Linked DNA regions of Homo sapiens. The protein of the gene in region 1 interacts with the protein of each later gene in a pairwise test. Each region holds a gene or a part of one and is shown on either strand. Other genes may lie near its edges.

Evidence for each region.
Region 2: the proteins of NUDCD1 (region 1) and COPG1 interact in binary tests that used the Homo sapiens proteins (3 or more experiments, as listed by UniProt).

What each region holds. Positions count from the first base shown.
Region 1 is NC_000008.11:109,323,551-109,331,087, forward strand, and holds part of NUDCD1 (nudC domain-containing protein 1), read right to left. Parts: intron 6,385-7,537; exon of another isoform or gene 6,286-6,384; coding exon of another isoform or gene 6,255-6,285; intron 1-6,254.
Region 2 is NC_000003.12:129,245,404-129,253,077, reverse strand, and holds the start of COPG1 (coatomer subunit gamma-1), read right to left. Parts: upstream 3,473-7,674; 5' UTR 3,369-3,472; coding exon 3,332-3,368; intron 2,397-3,331; coding exon 2,344-2,396; intron 798-2,343; coding exon 717-797; intron 456-716; coding exon 384-455; intron 203-383; coding exon 123-202; intron 1-122. UniProt on the Homo sapiens protein: The coatomer is a cytosolic protein complex that binds to dilysine motifs and reversibly associates with Golgi non-clathrin-coated vesicles, which further mediate biosynthetic protein transport from the ER, via the Golgi up to the trans Golgi network.

The DNA.
Region 1 (7,537 bases):
ATCACTGGGTACCATGAGAACACATAATGTAAGAGTTCTATTTGGGGAGATTAACAAAAGCTTTCCAAGGTTTGAGCCACGACATAAAAGATAAGAAAGAATTAACTTAAGAAAAAGTATTTTAACAAGAAGGTGAAAGACTTCTACAAGAAAACTACAAAACATTAATGAAAGAAATTGAAGAGGACACAAATAGACATCTCATGCTCATGGATCAGAAATAAATCCATGTACATGTAGCCAACTGATTTTTGACAAAGGTGCAAAGAACATACACTGGGAAAAGGATACCTTCCTCAATAAATGGTGTGAAAATTGGATATCCATAGCAGAAAAATAAAATTAGACTCCTATCTCTCATCATATGCAAAAATCAACTCAAAAACTATAAAAATACCAAAAAGGAAACAGAGAAGAAATGCTTCAGGATATAGGTCTATGCAAAGATTTTATGGTTAAGACCTCAAAAGCATAGGCAAGAAAAACAAAAAGACAAATGGGATTATATTTAACTAAACAACAACAACAACAAAAATACCTTCTGCAGAGCAAAAGAAACAAACAACCTAGTGAAGAGACAACCTATAGAATGGGAGAAAATATTTGCAAACTATTCAATCGTAAGGAATGAAAATTTTTTTTGCTGTTGAAGCAAAAAAAAAAAAGTCCCATTATAAAGAGGGCAAAGATCTTAATAGACATTTCTCAAAAGAATATATAAATAAATAGCCAACAGTTACATGAAAAAATGCTCAACATCACTAATTATTGAGGAAATGCAAATTGAAATCACAATGAGATATCATCTTCCTGTAGTTAGAATGGCTATTTTCAAAAAAATACAAAAAAAAAAAATAACAAATGCTGGCAAGGATGTGGAGAAAAGGGAACATATAATCTGTCAGTGGGAATGTAAATTAGTATAGCCATTATGGAAAATAGTAAAGAGGTTTCTCAAAAAACTAAAACTATAACTACTATACCACAATAGGCACTCCCACAAATGAATATTTATCAAAACAAAAGAAAGTCAGTATATCAAAAGGAATACCGTCACTTCCATGATTATTTCAGCACTATTTACAAAAGCCAAGACATGGGGGAAACCTAAGTGGCCAAAGGATGAACAGATAAAGAAAATGTAGTATATACACACACTGAAATACTATTCAGCCATAAAAAAGAACGAAATTCTATCATTTGCAGCAACATAGATGGAACTGGAGGTCATTAAGTGAAATAAACCAGGCACAAGGCCGGGCGCCGAGGCTCAGGCCTGTAATCCCAGCACTTTGGGAGGCCAAGGCGGGCGGATCACGAGGTCAGGAGATTGAGACCATCCTGGCCAACATGATGAAACCCCGTCTCTACTAAAAATTCAAAAAACAAATTAGCTGGGTGTGACAGTGCGTGCCTGTAATTCCAACTACTGGGGAGGCTGAGGCACGAGAATCGCTTGAACCCAGGAGGCAGAGGTTGCAGTGAGCCGAGATCGCTCCACTGCACTCCAGCCTGGGACAGAGTGAGACTTCATCTCAAAAATAAATAAATAAAATAAACCAGGTACAGAAAGACATCATACACGCAGCTAAAAAAGTGGATTTCATGGAGGGAGAGAGTAGAAAGATAGTTATCAGAGGCTGGGAAAGATGGGGGTGGGGGATGAAGGGAGGTTGCTTAATGGGTACAAACATACAATTAAAAGGATTAAGTTCTCATGTTTGATAGCACAGTTGGGTGACTACAGTTAACAACAATATATTGTGTATTTCAAAACAGCGAGTACCAAAATAGCTAGAAGATTTCAAATGTTCCCAACACAAAGAAATGGTAAATACTGAAGTTGATGAACACCCTAAATACTGATTTGATCATTACACACCGTATGCATGCATCAAAATATAACATAAAATCCCAGTTTATCAATTTAACATATTTTTAAAATAAAAAATACACCTATATACATGCATACCCACTCCTCTACTTTTCCAGACAGAAGGAAAATCTGTAAAAAGTAGGAAGAAAAACTTGTGTTCAAAGAACACAAAGAAGGCCACACTGTTCAAAGAAGGCCACACTGGCCGAAATGCAGAGCAACAAGGGGACTTGTACAGGAAAGGTTGCAATAAATGAAAACTCAGCAAGAACTGGATTATGAATGGACTGTATTTATTTTTGTTGACAAATTCAATTTAAAAGAATTCATTAACAGTTTTTAAGCAGGAGAGTAAAGTTCAGATTTGAGTTTATAAAAGAGTACTTATAACTACAATATGGAAAACAAATTGGAATAAAGCAGGGTAAATCCAGGAAGATCCATTAGAAAGCTATTGCAATCATCTGGTTGAGAGATAATGGAAACATCTCACAGGTAAAAATCCAATTATGATAGATTTGATAGAGGTTGAGGAAACATATAACACCACTTATTTTATAAGCAACAGTTAGAAATATGTATTCTTGGTTTTCTAGCACCACTGTGTGGATGAAACTCGATACTGCAGGAAAACTGCATGGTAACATAAGGGCCTGAAGCAGTAATATTAGACAACGATATAACAAATACATTTTCTTCATATCTGTGCAAAGACCTCTGGGCAATCCTGAACAAACTGGAGGCTTCTTAGACATCAGTCTTATTACAACACTTCATGATTGTTTCATTCCAACAAAATAATTTATATAAGTTATTAAGACACAGATGTGAGTCTAGGCCATATTACATGCTATTTTGTAAAATCTCTATTAACGCATAGAAAAAGGACACCTCTCTGGCCTCAAATGAGAAAGGAAAAGTTATCACATGATGATGACCATGTCAATTATCTTGATTATAAAAGTGGGAGGCAGAGCAACTGAAAGTAGAAAAGCAGTGTCCAGAATGTGACAGTTCTTAGCTACTGGCAGAGCTCTTTTGCAGAGTTCTCCCAAAAAAAGAAGTAGGGGGCAGCGAGGCTTCAATCTCTGCATAGATCTTTGTAAGGGTTGAAGAAGAAGAACTTTTTACAGAGAAGCCAGTGTAGTAAATATTTTATTATTTAATGATACCTTGCATTGAAAATAAAAGAGCTTTGCTGAAAAATCTGATAAGGATTAGTCTTCTAAAAAGAACTTAGGGCCTCAAAAGAAGAGTCTCCCTTAACATTTGCCCAAATACTTACCGAACCTCAAAACCTAGTTTTTCACACATGAAAACCACAAAAGCCTCATGGGACCTCAAAGGGCTATAGTTTTTCATTCATAAATTATTTATTGAATATCTACTATATGTACCAGACATTGTGGTTGGCATTGGGCACAAACAGTGAATAAAACAGACCTGTCTCCTGCACTAATAGTGCTAACGATGATATTCATTACTGTTTCTTGGCTTCTCAAAATACACTATTACTTGAACCACATGATATTGCCAATATTTAACTCTTTGACACCAATTAAATATGATGCAGTCTAATATTTACATAAGCAAAGTATAATAATCTTTAAAGAGGGGGAAGAGAGAGGCCAAGAACGTTAACTTACAAAGGTCACTTCATGGACCACTTAGCTTCTAGAATCAACCCAATAAGCCTTCTTTTCACCTAGTTACTGAGCTTGCTATTTATCTATGAAGGTGTAAAAAAGTAAAAGTACAAGTCCACAAATTCTAAAGCGAGACTTAAAGAACACGGGAGGACCAGAGTTAAGAGCACTGCTCCCATAAAATTATTTTATGCAATACTTCTCTGACCTCAACACATTCATGTGGGTATTTTCCCCATCTTTTCCTCCATAAGGGTAGAGATGAGTTTTATAGTCAACTCTACATAAATACAATGGTTACGTGGCTTTTCCCTCCCTTTACTCTAACTGTAGTGTAAATCTTCACCAGCTTTTCTTCCCTCTGCTCTGAAGAAAGAAAAAGGCCAGAGTGACCACAAAGATCATTAGGAAAAGCATGAGCTTTAGGGTCAGCTTTGCCACTGATGAATAACTTGGTTAAGTTAGCTCATCTTATTGCCCATTTCCTCATCTATAATAAAGGTTAGTAATACTAATTGTACCAAAACATTGACAAGCTTCAGTCGAAATATGCAATGTATTTACTATCAATGCATGGCACATAAGATTAAGCATTGATTTCCCTGTTCCTTTTCTCCCATTCAAGGCTAATTCCCACACAGGTGTTTATGATTCAATTTTCTCCTGCCAGAAGTTATCTCCTGTCCACTGGTGTTTCTCCTCCACTTACATATGCTGAAACTTCCCCACTCGCAAAATAAACAAATAAAAAAGGCTTCCTTTTCTCTGCCTGGCCGCTAAAGCAGAGCTCTCCCCTACCTTGTTCTTCTCAAACTTCTTTAAAAAGCTGTTTATACATCCATTTTCTCACTATACTCATTAGCCCTTTTCAATTGTTTCTAGCTCTATTATTCTACAGAAAATATTTTTTCACTTAAAAATATACATTGAATAACTTTTGTTTGCAGCCAACATGGAAGAATAGGAACCAGATTTATCTTTCCACCAGAAACATCCAATAAGATGAAACAAACCAGAGAAAGTTAAATGAAACAACAGTTTTCAAGACATCAGACATAAAACAACAAAGGACACTTATGAGATTAGCCCCACCACCAATCTAGTTTACTGCCTTGAGGAGTTTCCAGACCACAGCACAAAGAAGGGAAAGTGAGGTATAGTCAACTCTACATAAATACAACGGTTACATGGCTTTTCCCTCCCTTTAACTGTAGTGTAAATCTTCACCAGCTTTTCTTCCCCCTTCTCTGAAGAAAGAAAAAGGCCAGAGTACTTGTATGCAGAGTTGACTTCAACCTCCTTGAGTTGAAGAAACTAGGCTACTACTCTGTCATTAGACAGAGTAGCAGAGAAAAGAGAGATGCAGAGAGAAGCCCAGAGATCTGAGAGTCTGCCTCAAGTACTCAAGAGTACTAATGGCATGTGTTTGAGGAGATTACCCCAGGCTACAGAAAGAACCATCTGAAAGGGTTGAAGAGAAATCCTGGGCACTCACATAAGGCTAGGAACCATAACTGCTCCCAATAAGCAGAATGGAGAAAACCCTTAATTTGTGGGATACTGGGTAGTGTACACAGGAAAGTCTTGCCTCGGTAGTGGGAAATAACCCTAGACTGAGCACTGCTCCTGATCGGACTAACAAATCATAAAAGCAAGAACCAATGGAATTAATCTGTTTCCAAGTAACTCAACTATATCCCGGAAAAAAAACTCAAGAACATTATAAAAATACAAAAATAACCTGCACCTAACAAGGTAAAATTCACAATGTCTGGCATCCAATCAAAGATTACCACATATGCAAAGAGGAAAGAAAACAAAATCCATAATGAAGAGAATTACCAATCAATAGAAGCCAATATAAAACTGACATGGAAGCTACAATTCACAGAACAAGATGTAAAAACAATTATTGCTACATGTACTCCATGTATGTTCAACATAAGTAAGTAGAAGCAAGAAAGATGCAAAAGATTTAAATCAAACTTCTAGATGTGAATATTACAATGTCCAAGATGAAAAATACACCAGATGGGATTAACAAGAGACTAATATTACAAAAAAAAAAAGTAAACGGAACTAAAGGCATGAAAATGGAAACTATTGGCAATAAAACAGAAAAAAGTATGAAGAAAAAATGAAACGGGCATTCATGAGCTGAGACCAACTTCTGTGATCTAAAAATGTGTAACTGGAGTCTTCAAAGGAGAAAAGGAGGGGAAAAAGTTGGAAGAAATAATAGCCAAAATATTGCCATTGATCTTGATAAAAACTATATGTCCGCAGTTTATAGCCCAACAAACCCCAAACATAAGAATCATAAAGAAAACCACAGCTGGCCACAATATTATCAAACTGCTCAAAACCAATGTAAAAGAGAAAAATCTTAAAACAGAAGAAAAAAGGCATGTTATGTATAGAGCAACAAAGATAGGATAATGTGAGATTTCTCATCAGAAACAATATAAGCAAGACTGAGGCTATAACTTTAAAGCATTGAAAGAAAAAACTGTCAACCTAGAATGCAGAAGGAGCAGAGAGATGGTTACAGAAGGGTACAAGGAAACTTTGGGAATGATAGCTAAGTTTAGTATCTTGATTGTGGTGATGATTTCACGGGTGTATACATATATCACAACTTCTTAAGTTGTACATTTTAAATTTGTAGTTTATTGTCAATTATGTCTTCATAAAGCTGTTTAATTTGTGAGACAAATTTATGTCCTACTTACCAGGCATGCTCCAACCCTGGAGATAAAGCATTGAAAACGATGGACATGGGACCCTTCAATACAAAATCAATAATCTTAGCAAAGAAAACATACTGGATGCTACGAAGTATGATAAAGTCTATGAAGTACTGGTTACTATGGCAACGCATAATACAGATTCTATAGTGTAGATTCTGACTAGTCAAGAAAGGAATCCCTGAGGAAGTAACATGTAAGCCAACATGAAAGAATGAAGTATGAATTAGCTAGGTGAAATATAGCTGGGAAACATATAAAAACATATAAAAAGACTTGTACTAAATGAAGATTCTAGGAAAAGGATATTTATAAATGCCTAGGAAGGAAATTGCCGGATCAAAAGACAATTACAATTTGATTAAAAATAAGTTTTTTGTTTCGTTCTTTGGAATAGAAAAAGACAAAGTGACATTTACTGCTTATGTAGCAAAGGAAATTTTGGTACAACTTAATAACATTATTTAAGACAAGAGAATAAGCCTCATTGCATCAAGTTCTTGACACCAGAGACCACATCATCTTTACATCTTAAATGCAGTGTTTCAGGTAGCCAAGGTGCCCATCAAAGGTTTGTGGAACTAAAGTGAACTCCTTCAGTTAGAATAAAAGAAATCAAATTACCAGAAGCGCCTCAATTATGCTTCACTATCTCTAGAAATGATAGTTTTTAAACAAAATAATCTTTTTCATCATCCTCAAGTAATTCCTAATGAAAAACTCATCATGTGAACTATTGCAAAAGCCTCCTATCTGCTGTGTGCAGTCATCTCATCTTCCAAACTCAACCTCCACAGAGTCTGAGGTAAGCTTTTCAACTCCCGTATCTGTTCACGTCCCTTGTACTTAAAATGTGGTACACATACGCCATGGAATACTATGCAGCCATAAAAAGGAACACAATCATATCCTTCAAAGGGACATGGAAGGAGCTGGAAGCCACTGTCCTCAACAAACCAACGAAGGAACAGAACACAAAACACCACATGTTCTCACTTGTAAGTGGGAGCTGAATAATGAGATCACATGGACACAGGGAGGGGAACAACACACACTGTGGTCTGTCAGAGAATGGGGTAGGGGGAGGGAGAGCATTAGGAAAAATTGCTAATGCATGCTGGGCTTAATACCTAGGTGATGGGTTGACGGGTGCAGCAAACCACCATGGCACACGTTTACCTATGTACCAAACCTGCACATCCTGCACATGTACCCCGGAACTTCAAAGAAAAAAAAAAATCGGTCGGAGCAGTGGCTCAGGCCTGTTA
Region 2 (7,674 bases), on another chromosome or scaffold:
AAGCTGCCACGGGGTGGGCAGCTGGCAATATGCAACCAAGTCTCACTGTCTGGTACACACAAGAAAAAAATGGTCTGTCAATGGAACCCATCAGAAGAGCCACCCACAACCCCATGACTTGCCTGCTGGTGACAATGATGACATCCTCTGCAATGCAAGACATCTCCTTGATGGTCAAGTAGCACATCCGACGGAGTGTGGGCTGGGAGATAGGTGGGAAAAGCCCTATCAGCCCGGGCTCACCAAGGGCCAGAGTTGGGAGAAGATACCTCCTGTCTCCACAAAGGCAGCCCACACTGACTGGTGGGGCCAGCTCTCTTTGGCCCTCCCACCACCTTGTTACAGCTGCCACCTCTCAAGGAAAGCTGGGTTGAGGCACTTACATCATTGGACTGAAAGAGCTTGGTCATGGCAAAGAAGGCCTCGGTCGCTTCCGTGGTCCCCAGGTGCTCCCCCTGTGTTAATCAAGAAAGAAGTCTCAGCTTGGGACAGAGGGTCAGACAGCAGTTCTTTCAGGATCAGCCCACACCAGATCCCCAGACCCTAAAGAGGCTCAAGGGCAACATATGAGACTTGGATGCTGAGGGGACCCAGAGCTGAGCTGTTGTCTACAGCCACACAGAGGCTGTCCAATAGCCTAAGAGTGATCATGATTTGTCCACTCCCCTCCAATCCCCCAGCACCATTCTCCCTACCCGCAAGCTTCACCCTGTTACCTGGTTTATGAGATAAAGAATCTTGGTGAGGATGTGGGCACATTTCCGAGGGTTGATGGGAGTTTCATTAAATACACGGGCCTAAGAAGAAATGACCAAAGATGTTACCTTCTAGCCTAGTTCATTTCCCTTCAAGTATATTCAATGTCTGAGAAGTCTCAGGGTAAACTGACTTGTCTAAACAGGGCTTTCTGGGTATGCAACAAGCTTATTTTCATAAGGAAAGGGTTTGTTTTTCTTTAATCAACTACTAATTATTCTTAGACTCTCGTGTAAATATTAGTTAGGGATGTGCTAACCTATTGACTAGCAGATACTTAGCAACCATCTGCTAACTGGAAACAGAAACAATGAACGACAACAATAAAGAAAGAAGCGGCTGGACGCAGTAGCTCACACCTGTAATCCTAGCACTTTGGGAGGCCGAGGCGGGTGGATCACCTGAGGTCAGTTCGAGACCAGCCTGGCCAACATGGTGAAACCCCGTCTGTACTAAAAATACAAAACTTAGCCAGGCATGGTGGTGGGCACCTGTAATCTCAGCTACTCGGGAGGCCGAGGCAGGAGAATTGCTGGAACCCAGGAGGCGGAGGTTGCAGCAAGCCAAGATCATGCCATTGCACTCCACCCCAGGCTGACACCAGCAAGTCTCCATCTCAAAAAAAAAAAGAGAAGTGGCCGGGCGCGGTGGCTCACGCTTATAATCCCAGCACTTTGGGAGGCCGAGGCGGGAGGATCAAGAGGTCAGGATTCACACCATTCTCCTGCCTGGCCAACATCGTGAAACCTCATCTCTACTAAAAATATAAAAATCAGCCAGGCATAGTGGCGTGCGCCTGTAGTCCCGGCTACTTGGGAGGCTGAGACAGAAAAATTGCTTGAACCCAGGAGGCAGAGGTTGCAGTTGAGCCGAGATCGTGCCACTGCACTCCAGCCTGAGCAACAGAGTGAGACGCCTTCTAAAAAAAAATACATATATATATATATATAAAAAATATATATAATAAAAATAAACAAGTCATGCAAAATCTCTACCTGCATAATGGCCACAGTCTAGCTTAGGTGATAGTTTTAAACCAGTTTCCTTAGCTTTGGAATTAACTTTAAATAGAGAAATTTTTTAAATGTTTAAATAGAGAGGCCAGGCGCGGTGGCTCAAGCCTGTAATCCCAGCACTTTGGGAGGCCGAGGCGGGTGGATCACGAGGTCAGGAGATCAAGACCGTCCTGGCTAACGCGGTGAAACCCCGTCTCTACTAAAAATACAAAAAATTAGCCGGGTGTGGTGGCGGGCGTCTGTAGTCCCAGCTACTTGGGAGGCTGAGGCAGGAGAATGGCGTGAACCTGGAAGGCGGAGCTTGCAGTGAGCCGAGATCACGCCACTGCACTCCAGCCTGAGCGACAGAGCAAGACTCTGTCTCAGAAAAAAAAAAAAAAAAAAAAAAAAAAAGAAGTAAGCATAACTAACTCTCTCCAGAAACAAAGTTTTCCTGTCTTCCAGAAAACTTCCAGGCACAAGTTTTCTCCCGTGTTGCTCTTTAAAACAACACTTTGAATGTGTTGGTATTTCAGTTGCATTGGTGGTGAATATTTATGATGGAAGCTAGAGGGGAGCAAATGTCACTTGCCTCCTGGAGTACCGCACTCTTCTCAAGGTGCTGGAATGGGTTGGAGCCTCCACCTACGGTCAAGGACAATGGAGAAGGTAGGTTGTGACTCTGAACTTCAAAACTCTCCCAGACATAGGTAAAGGGAAGATGTCCCTTCCTAGGAAATCTAGTAAAGTTCAAACTCCTCAGGAATGGCAATCAAGCCTCTACAATCTGTCTAGGGATCCTACTAGTCTCCTGCAAGCAGGTGGGCTCCACTCTACCCCAAACCACTCACAATCTCCCAGCAGCCCTGGTACAGTCCTGTGCTTCTCATGGTGCCATGTCTTGTGTTCATTTATATAACTTGTAATTAACTAAGTCCCTATGTGCCAGGGACCACCATCTCGTTGTAACTAGTTCCTTCATAGCAGATGACACATTTGCAAATAATTACACGTGTGATTATCTGGTTGATGTCTGCCTCCTCCATCGTGGGTGCAACCATTCTAATATTCCTAGCTCAGGCACTGAGTGTCCCACTTGCTCTGTTGCAGTATCCAGGACACCGTACAGTACCTGGCATACAGTAACTGCTCAATATACTTTGCTGAATAAATGAATGATGGGGTCAGAGTTCCCAGTCACAGGACGCTGGCTCCGCAGGTTACACCCCAGTTTGGCCAGCACCAACGTAGCCCCAGCGAATCCCAAGAGGTTGGACGAAGAAAGTAACAAGAGAACATTCGGCATGGTCCCCTCCTTTGACAGATGGGTAAATTGAGGCCTGGGGGGGGGGGTGTTTGTCGCGCCCAAGGTCACCCAGAAAATTGCAGTCCGAGCTTACAAGAGTGAGACAGCCGCGCATGCTCGGGCTCTCCGAGGCCTGCCACTGACTAGCTGTGGACCCTGGCACAAGCCCCTGCCCCTCACTGGGCCTCAGCCTCCGGGTCAGGACAGAGAACCAGAAGGAAAGCTCGGCGGGTGGGGGTCCGGCCTCCCTCAGACCCAGGCCTGGCCCCCTCACCTGACTCCTCATCCTTCTTGTCGAATTTCTTCAACATAGTGGAGTCGGTGGGGCGCAATGCAGCAACGCAATGCTCGACGGGCGCGGCACGGAGTAGCGGTGCCACAGTGGTTCTACAGGGACCACTTCCGGGCCCCGACTGGCCACGTCGCCCAGCGCTCTGCGCAGGCGCATTCCGCGCTCTGCGCCTGCGCTCTTTCCGGTAGCCACAGCCTCGTCTAATGTTAACCTTAGCTCCGCCGGAGCGGGAGTGGGGAAAGCCAGACGGAGGGGCAAGGGCTAGGTGCAGGGGGGTACTGACTAGCATCCCAACTCTGCTCCCTACGCTTCTTTCCGTATACCAAGGGAGGAGGAGGAGCCCCTGCCTCGTTGCGTTGTGGCGTGAGTCTTTGTGGCTTTCGGGTGTGAGGTTGGTGGCACACACTGGCCCGCAGTAAACACCCAATTGATGTGACCGGTCTATGACTGTTATTGCCACCTTCCGAAGGAGCCTTGCCAGCCACTCACTCCTCGCTTTCAGATTCTTTCCCCTGCCTGATTTCCTCCTCAGCTCGAATCGCCATCTAACACTTTATTTTTACTTTCTGGCTTTTATTTGTTTATTTATTTCTCGTTCTGCTGCCCAGGCTGTGGTGCAGTTGTGCGATCCTGGCTCACTGCAGCCTACAGTTCCTGGGCTCAAGCGATCCTCCCACCTCAGCCTCCCGAGTAGAGCTGGGCGCACCACCCCCGACTAATTTTTTAATTTTTGTAGAGACGAGGTCTCACTATGATGTTGCCCAGTCTGGTCTTGAACTCGTGGCCTCAAGCGATCCTCCTTTCTCGACCTTCCAAAGTGCTGGGATTACAGCGGTGAGCCACTGCACCCGGCCACTTTCTTGCTCTTTTGTTTTTTTTTTTGTTATTTGCTTGTTTGTTTGTCTTTTATTCACTGCAGTGGATAATGTTGGCACATAGTAGTTGCTCAGTGAGTTCTCGTTGAATGAATGCGTGCAATTGCATTTTTAATTTATATCTGCCGGGCCCTATCTCGTCTGCTCCTGATGCAAATTGCCTTGTACATTATCAACCTTAAGAGATCTAACTAAACAGCATAGAACTTCTACGTTATTTTGTAAATACTTTGGATATTTATGGAGTGCCAACTAGATGCGCTGCCTACGCGGGGAGGTGGGGGGAAGGGCGTGGGAAGGAACGGAAAGGGGAAAATGACACATCACCCAGGGTTTATCTTCCTGGGGACCTATGCAGGACACCCTGAGGCTAAGGTAAGCACAGTGCATGCCAGTGAGCCAGATTGCATTGGCAATGGCAAAGTCGTGATGGCCAAGCGCTGCGACACGGCCCCAGCTTGCCTGGGGAGGGGAAGCCCGCAGGCCTGTGGGCAGGAGAAGGAGTGGGCTGTGGAGAGGAGAGGCAGGAGGCTGAGGCAGAGGCCCCAGGTGAAAAGGGTGACCGCAAAGCTGGAGGAAGGGAGATGTCAGAGGGGCCAGCCCTTAGGGTCTGGCTTTGCAGAGGCTAGGGCCAAGGACAACAGATCTTGTGACATGCAAAATTGTCAAGAGTCAGAAAGATGTTCAAAATGTCTGATCGGTAACCCCACCCCTAATCAGGAGGAAATTGTTCAAAAGAAGAAAATGAGGCCGGGCGCAGTGTCTCAAGCCTGTAATCCCAGCACTTTGGAAGGCTGAGGCAGGTGGATCACCTGAGGTCAGGAGTTTGAGAGCAGCCTGACCAACATGGTGAAACCCCATCTCTACTAAATACAAAAAAAAAAAAAATTAGCCTGGCGTGGTGGTGCATACCTGTAATCCCAGCTACTCGGGAGGCTGAGGCAGGAGAATCGTTTGAACCTGGGAGGCGGAGGCTGCAGTGAGCTGAGATCACGCCGTTGCACTCCAGCCTGGAGTCTGGGCAACAAAAGCGAAACTGTCTCAAAAAAAAGAAAAAAGAAAATGAAGTTGCCTGCTGCAGCAGTTTGCAGCAAAATAATTGTAAACACCCTAAATGTCTATCAATAAAGGGATGATTAAGGAAGTTATGGTACATCTGAGGACTAAACTGATTTTTATCTTGTCTCAGCTACTCCAGGAGTCTGAGATGGGAGGATTGCTTAAGCCTGGGAGGTCAAGGCTGCAGTGAGCCATGATCATGCCTCTGTACTTCCAGCGTGGGCAACAGAGCAAGACCCTGTCTCAAAAAATACATAGGGGTGGCCAGGCGAGGTGGCTCACGCCTCCAGCACTTGGGAGGCTGAGGAGGGTGAATCACCTGAGGTCAAGAGTTTGAGACCAACCTGACCAACATGGTGAAACCCCGTCTCTACTAAAAATATAAAAATTCACTGGGCATGGTGGCAGATGCCTGTAATCCCAGCTACTCGGGAGGCTGAGGCAGGAGAATTGCTCAGGAGGTGGAGGTTGCCCTGAGCCAAGATCGTGCCATTGCACTCCAGCCTGGGTGACGGGCGAGACTCTGTCTCAAAAAAAAAAAGTGTATATACATATATATATATATACACACACACACACACACACACACACATGCATATATAAATAGGTGTACAATTCAGTGGGTTTTAGTATATTAAAAAAAGTTTATGTACCTGTCCGCACTAATTGGAGAACATTTTCATCATCCCAAAAAGAAAGCTATTCATTAGCAGTCACTTTCCATTTGCCCATCTGCCCAGCCCCTGGCAACCACTAATCTACTTTCTGTCTATAGATTTGCATGTTCTGGATATTTCATATAAACAGAATCATATGCTATGTAGTCTTTTGTGTGTTTTGCTTCTTTCATTTAGCATGTTTTCAAGACATGTTATAGCATGAATCAGTACTTCATTCCTTTTGTAGCTGGATAATATTCCATTTTATGGATTTACTATATTTTGTTTGTTAATCAGTTGATGGACATTTGGCTTGTTTCCAGTCTAGCTCTTGTGAACAAAGCTGTGAATGCTGTGAACATTAATGTACAAGCTTTTGTGCAACCCTATGTTTTAACTTCTCTTGGGTCTATACCTAAGAGTGGTATTACTAGGTCATATGGTAACTATGTTTAACTTTTTGAGAACTGTCTAACTGCTTTTCCAAAGCAGCTGCACCATTTTACATTCCCACCAGCAGTGTATGGGGGTTTCAATTTCTTCATATCCTTGTCAACACTTGTTACTGTCTTTTTGATTATAGCCATGCTAGTGGGTGTGAAGAGGTTTCAATTTGCACTTTCCTGATGGCTACTGATGTTGAGCATCTTTTCATGTGCTTATTGGTCATTTGTACATCTTCTTTGAAAAAATAGCTGTTCATATCCCTTGCTCGTTTTAAAATTATTTTATCTTTTTATTTAGAGTTGTATGAGTTATTTAAGTCTAGACCCCTTCTTCTTTTTTTTTTTTTTTTTAGACAGAGTGTAGCTCTGTCACCCAGGCTGGAGTGCAGTGGTGCAATCTCAGCTCACTGCAACCTCTGCCTCCCAGGTTCAAGCGATTCTCATGCCTCAGCCTCCCTAGTAGCTGGGACTACAGGCGTGTGCCACCAGACTCAGCTAATTTTTGTATTTTTGGTGGAGACGGGGTTTCACCATGTTGGCCAGGCTGGTCTTGAACTCCTGACCTCAAGTGATCCTCCCGCCTCGGCCTCCCAAAGTGTTGGGATTACAGGCATGAGCCACCATGCCAGGCCAATAGAGATTATTTTTATGATTCTTTATAACCACCACCACCTTCCATATTCTAAGGATTTCCGCAGCCCTCTTCTGAGATGCACTCTCTTGCCCTCTAGGTGGCACCAACTCTTTAATTTTACCTCTAGTTTTTTAGCGACGGCACAGCTGGAAGAGGCTTGAAGCCCCCATGCCAGGCCCTGTCTGTCCACTAGGGTGACCCAGGGCAGTTTCAGAGTCCGGGGACTAACTCCCTTCAATATAACAGGGAGACTCAGGACTACCCTTGCTTTAGAGGCAGCTTCCAGCCTCATAAAATGAGTTTTCCAGTAAGTCACCTGTTTTCTTGTCCACCCACGCCCACTTTTGAAACTATGCCCTCACTCATTCGGCATTTGTTGAGCACCCACTGTTACATAATACTTGTAAAAATAGCAAGTACTCTATACATATGAGCTGTTGTTAACAAAAATTAGACTTTTTTAGGATGAGATCATGAATATAAGCGCCCCCGCCTTTGCAAACTGTGAAGGGCAACATTGTGCTAAGGTGTGATCATTATTGGGGCAGGAGGACCACAATACAAGTGCTAGCGTTTATCAAGGACTCACCAGGCGAGAAGCACTTCATGTATTTTATCCTGAGCCCACCTAATGAAAGTTCAAAGTAAACAT